Regions from separate parts of the Homo sapiens genome. Here region 2 is linked to region 1. Evidence: fine-mapped expression QTL. A gene starts in region 1. The other region holds a variant in brackets. All regions are shown on one strand. Distances are from middle to middle.

Region 1 (2,911 bases):
CTGTCTTTTCATGACCCTCTTATTTTTAAAATGATCTTCTATGAAATTCTTCAGGTGAAAGGTACCTTCAGATGAAAGGTATAAACCAAATACTATTGGGCAATTTGAGCAAGAACATTAAATATAGGTTATGATACAGATAAAATCATTGAATAATATTCCATGAATCTACAACCTTTCTTCATTCCAATGGTTATAGAGTTTGTAGAAGTATGTGTTTTCTAAGTGAAATAACTACTTGGCTCCTTGGAACCAACTATTAAAAAAGCGTATTGAATCATCCTTAGAAAATTTGAACGTCCCATCCGTTCTTAAATTATTAGAAGAAAGTTGATAAGATTAAAAAGTAGAAAGGACCCTGAAGAGAGAGAGCTGCGCCTAGAGTTAGCAAGCAGGGACTGTTAGTTTCAAAGTAGGGCGGAAAGAAGAGGCCTGCCCGGCCGGGGCTGGAAATCCTAAGAGGCTTGAGAACGACTAGCAGGGAGATCCAGGGAACTAGGAGGGAGACGGATGGGTGGTGCCCTGCAGACCTGTGGATTGAAATAAGTGTTCCCGGGAGGCAACCGTGGGATCAGGGATCGACAGGACATGGGATCTGAGACTTGGGTGAGATTGTTGACTGAGGAAGGTGCCCAGGGGGCTGGGAAAAGTCTGGGGCCTGAAGAAGGGGGTTCTGGGCCGCAGGCCGAAGCAATGGGGAGGCCATGGAGTAATTAGAGCCAGGAACTAAAATTATGGGGGCTACTGCAAAGATGACACCTAAGGGCTGGGTGAGTTGAGAGGAGTGGACGAGGCGCTGGATGTGCCCAGGGACCTCGGAGAGAGGATCCAGGCGAGGGGCGGAGGAGACATACGTATAAGTGGGGGCTGAGGGAAGGGATGCAGAGGCGTAAGCGGGGTTGAGAAGGGGTGCTGTGAGAGATCTGGGGGCTGAAGTGCACAACATGAGTTGGATGGAGGCTACAGAAGAGCAGACGGGGACGTGGGGCTAGGCAGGGGCCGCGGCGGGGTGAGCCGGAGATCCGGGAGCCCGCAAGGACTAGGGTCGAGGGGCAGGGAGCCCGGGAGAGGCGGGCACTGGGCAGGCGCCCCACTGTACCAGGCTGCGCAGATTGTCCTCCTGAGACTGGACCGTGAGAGCAGCAGTCCCGGTCAGCGTCCGGCGAGTAAAGTCGACGCTGCAGCGCAGGTGCAGGTGCTTGGTCCGGCAGACGGAAGCCGGAGAGGCCAACGAACAGGTATCCACTATCTCGGGCATGGCTCTGGGGGATCACACAGCACAGCGACCTACAGCCCAACGCTCAGCTACCAGACTCGTCGATAGAGAACCTGAGGAGGAGGGAGAGAGGTAAAGAAGAGGAGGAGGGATTCGCGGTGCACGCCGGGAAAGGAAGTTTCTTAAAGTCAGACGAGCGTTGGGGGATGGGTGAAGGAACTACAAGTTCCATGGTGCCGCGCGGCAAGCGGGCGCTTGGCTACCTGGGAGCGTGTGTGTTAGGGATGTTGAGGGGGACCAAGCGTGCTCCTGGAGCTGAAGAAGAGGAGGGGAGTAGGGGCAGTTAGAAGGGTGGCCGAAGGGAAATGATGAGAATGGAGGGGGAGATAAAACTGAACACTACCATTTTGGCTCTGTTCAACTTTCGTGGAAGCTGTGGTGGCAAACGTAAGAAAATCAGGTTCATTGGTGTTTGCATATAGCGAGGGCGGGGCGGAGCAAAAACGTAGAAAAGGCCTATCAGAAGGCTTTCTTTCGTGCGGTTCCTCGTTAGTATAGTGGTGAGTATCCCCGCCTGTCACGCGGGAGACCGGGGTTCGATTCCCCGACGGGGAGGCACAGTAATTGTTTTTTGTTTTTAGCTGTAAGTAATTCAAGGTTTAAACAGTTGTTTTGTCAGTTTCAGTGTTTATTATGTATATCCCCAGAACCTGCATCTCTCAAACGGAGAAAGCCAACATTCCCATCTTAGAAACTAATGAATTTCTATAAAAGTTATGCACTGGTCGCAATGGGAGTACAGAGCTGGGACATCTAGCTCAGCTCTGGGGCCTTTGTGGCAGGTGAAGGAGGATTGAAGGATGCCTTGCCTTTAGGGTGGGGCCTCAAAATTAAAACTGGAAAAATTGGAAGAGGCTAGGTTTCGAAGGACCTTAAATAGGTGGCCTTTTAATCCTGGGTGCATTAATGGGGGACCCACTGAAGAGTTTTCAGCAGGCGACTGATAAAGCATGGTCAGACTCATGTTATAAAATGCGGTATCAAAACCATTAGCAGGAGATTTAGGAAACTATTAAAATGGCTCAATCAGAAGATGCTGGGGGCCTGACATAGGTAAGTAGTAAGTTAGGATAGAGAGGAAGGAATGAATAGAAGGAATACTTATATAAGTGGATTCACAGATTGAGAGGAGACGAAGGTGGCCCAGGCTTTCGGCTTCAGTGGCTGGCTAGTCATTAACCAGAGGTAGTAGTCTATATGAAGAGGACAGTATGTTAGGCTGTACTTGCATTGCTATAAATACCTGAGACTGGGAAGAAAAGGGGTTTAATTGGTTTACAGTTACGCAGGCTGTACAGGAAGCATAGCTCCAGTATGCTTCCAGGTAGGCCTCAGGAAGCTTACAATCATGGCAGAAGGTGAAGAAGGGGCAGGCCTCTACATGGCCCGAGCAAGAGCAAGAGATTGCGGGGCCGGTGCCACACACTTAAACAATCAGATCCCACAAGACACTGTGGCGAGGACAGCACCAGGCCATGAGGGCTCTGCCCCCGTGACCCAAACACCTCCCACCAGGCCCTACCTCCAACACTGGAGATTATAATTCAACATGAGATTTGGTAGGGACATATATTCAAACTAAATCAGACAGATTTAAGGGGAAGATGCTAAATTCAATTTTGGACATATGAAATT
Region 2 (2,911 bases), 21 kb before region 1:
CAATAAATAGAGATATATCGAGCATGAAAAATAGAAAAGGTTTTTAAATCCAACCTTATCTTTAAAATAGGAATACAGGAAATCCTTCCAGTCATCAGTAGTTATGCTCTTATAGGAAAACTTCTCAACATAAGCTTTTAAGAATCCTAGGAAAATCTCTAAGAGTAAAAAAGAAAAGAAATCAATTCATAGAAAGGTAATTATTTGACATTTTGTGTGCGTGTTTGGCATTGTACTATTAACCACAGAGAACAGAGAACATTCAGAGAATAGGGAAATCTACGAGGACTTTCAGAGTGAAAGAATGTTCAAAAAAGGAGGTGGGACTTAAGTTGGGCCTTGAAGAATATATGTAATTCAGTGGAAGGGAGAAGAGAAATTCTAATTATAGGTAAGGGGATAACACATGAAGACACAGAAAAGGAATGCATAACCCAAGTTCTAAAAGCAATAACCTTCACATGACTAGAAAGGAGAAAAATAAGACTGGACAGGCAGAATGGATCCAGGTGACAGACAGCCTTCCAAGTCAATCAACCAAGGAGAACACCTCAATGTCCATCAGTGGGGGATGGGTACATAACTCAGCATAGCTTTATCATGAACTAGTATGATGGCATTAAAAAGTATGAAACAGATTTATATGTACTGACACAGAAGGGTGTATGTGAAATATCGAGCAAAACAAAACACAAATGCAGAGCCAATATATAGCATGACCCATTTTTTGTAATTAAAATAATTACATGTATTTATTTGTCTGCTTGTTAATTTACACCTAGAAAATGATCTGGAGCCATTTACACCAAACTGCTAACAGTGGTTACCCCTGGGGAGTGGAAAGGGGTTGATGGACTCTCACTTGTTACTCTTATAAACTTCTGTACCATAGAAATGTTTTCAGGGAATACACACTATTATCCTAATTTCAAAAACTGATGAGATTTTTTAAAAAATGAAGCAGCATAATTTAAACCTTAGGGGTTATTAATGGTTTTAAGTTGAGAGGTAACTCAGAAAACAATACAGATTTCTTCAGCAGCTACATCCAGAATGAATTGGAAGTATTAAATGGAACAAAACAATAGTTTACAATTCTTCCTAATTCTCACATTACCCTCAAAAAGAAAAAAAAAATCATAAAATACCAACTACTTACCTGGTCCTCCAAGCAGTTGTTCAAGGTAAAAAAGTAAAGCAAAGCCCTTCTCATAGGGAACTGAAGAATAAGCTACATCAGGGTCTATATCTGTCAGATCAACCACAAGTTTGGTGAAAGGATGTGTCTCCCCAAATGTCTTTACCTGCAAGACATGAAATAACATGGAGAAACATATAGAAAGACTGCTATCACCACGCAAATAAGCTAATAAGGAGGTATTACTTCACTCAGTGGTGTAACTTTAGGGGAATCTAAAACTTGGAGACTGGAACACTAGGATATGTTGGCATAAACTTCTGGAAGTCTATTAATAGAATGCTTACTTAAGTAATATTCTCTGTTGTTTCTTGCTCAATAATACAGGCTTTATTCTTATAAAAAGACTAGAAAAATGATTTAATGCCTGGTCAGCAAATTTGGCTTTCAGGAGACAACACTTAAAAATGACATACCAAATAAGATGCAAACATAGTAAACAGCTATATTAATAGCAAAGACCCAGTGAGGTCCCACAGCTCCCTATTTAGACCAGGTCATCAAAACTACCTTACATAGAACAGTGAAC[A/G]GTGTGGATCAACACAGTGTTATACCAGCATTGACTTCACTTTCCACACTTGTAAAAATGACTTTTTGGTTGCTACACAGTAAAGACGCTTTTATAAAAACTCAGTTTTTAACACCTATACAACTTTGGATGAAGGTTTTTAAAACTTTGACTCCTTTACCGAATTCTGTAGTTCTCCCCATCCTCCCAGAGCATTAAAATGTCTGAACTTTTCACCAAACAATCGTCCGCAAATGTGGCGTTCCAAGTACACAGTATGTCCCTCATTTAACCTGAAAAAAAAATATTTTAATAAAAACACGGACACAGCTGAGAAGAAAAGACATTTCAATCAAGATATTTTCTTTTTGGCTTTTCTACAGAGGAAAGCAGTTGTAAGGCATGACCACTACAGTCTAAGCCGACTCTGGCTCCCAGGCAGTCAATCCAGAGCAATGGGAAGCCCAGCCCAGCAGATGGCAGCAGGGAAAGTTAAGCCCTGCTTCTGCTCTTGCATGTCCCTATGTTAAAAGTGGGAGTATATCAGGAATTAAACTTAACACCTAGACTGAACCTAACACTCCTAACGCTGTAATAAGTGTTACAGAATTTTTAAGAACTATCCTTGTTGGCCGGGCATGGTGGCCCACGCCTGTAATCCTAGCACTTTGGGAGGCCGAGGCGGGAGAATTATCTGAGGTCAGGAGTTCAAGACCAGCCTGGCCAACATGGTGAAACCCCGTCTCTACTAAAAATACAAAAATGAGCTGAGCATGGTGGCGTGCACCTGTAGTCCCAGATACTCGGGAGGCTAAGGCACAAGAATTGCTTGAACTGAGAGGCAGAGAGATCACACTACTGCACACCAGCCTGGGCGACAGAGTGAGACTCCATCTCAAAAAAAAAAAAAAAAAAAAAATCCTTGTTGGCTGGGCGTGGCGGCTTATGCCTATAATCTCAGCACTTTGGGAGGCCGAGGTGGGCGGATCACTTGAGCTCAGGAGTTTGAGACCAGTCTGGGCGACATGGTGAAATCCCATCTCTATAAAAAATACAAAAATTAGCCAGGCATAGTGGCATGCGCCTTTAGTCTCAGCCACTTTGGAGGCTGAGGAGGGAGGATTGCAACCCTGGAGTTGCAGTTAGCAGAGATTGCACCACTGCACTACAGCCTGGGCCACAGAGTGAGACCTTGTCTCCAATTA

What was found. PIP is the estimated chance that this variant, and not a neighbour inherited with it, causes the effect. A credible set is the group of variants that fine-mapping cannot tell apart.
Region 2: its variant is the best candidate, but not a certain one, in a credible set for the expression of LTA4H in subcutaneous fat (GTEx, PIP 0.57).

The regions. Positions count from the first base shown.
Region 1 is chr12:96,034,262-96,037,172 of GRCh38, forward strand. It overlaps LTA4H (leukotriene A4 hydrolase), which reads right to left and starts at 1,326. Exons shown (of 19, transcript NM_000895.3): 1 at 1,100-1,326. The coding sequence starts at 1,258. It overlaps TRD-GTC2-8 (tRNA-Asp (anticodon GTC) 2-8), which reads left to right and starts at 1,760; the gene lies at 1,760-1,831. RefSeq lists enhancers at 425-514, 1,105-1,524, 1,965-2,014, 2,035-2,084 and a silencer at 955-1,054.
Region 2 is chr12:96,013,696-96,016,606 of GRCh38, forward strand. LTA4H (leukotriene A4 hydrolase) reads right to left here. Exons shown (of 19, transcript NM_000895.3): 11 at 1,888-1,999; 12 at 1,160-1,304; 13 at 55-158. Among named protein-coding and RNA genes, the nearest start is that of HAL, 19 kb to the left of the region's middle. The variant A/G (reference allele first, on the strand shown) is at 1,728.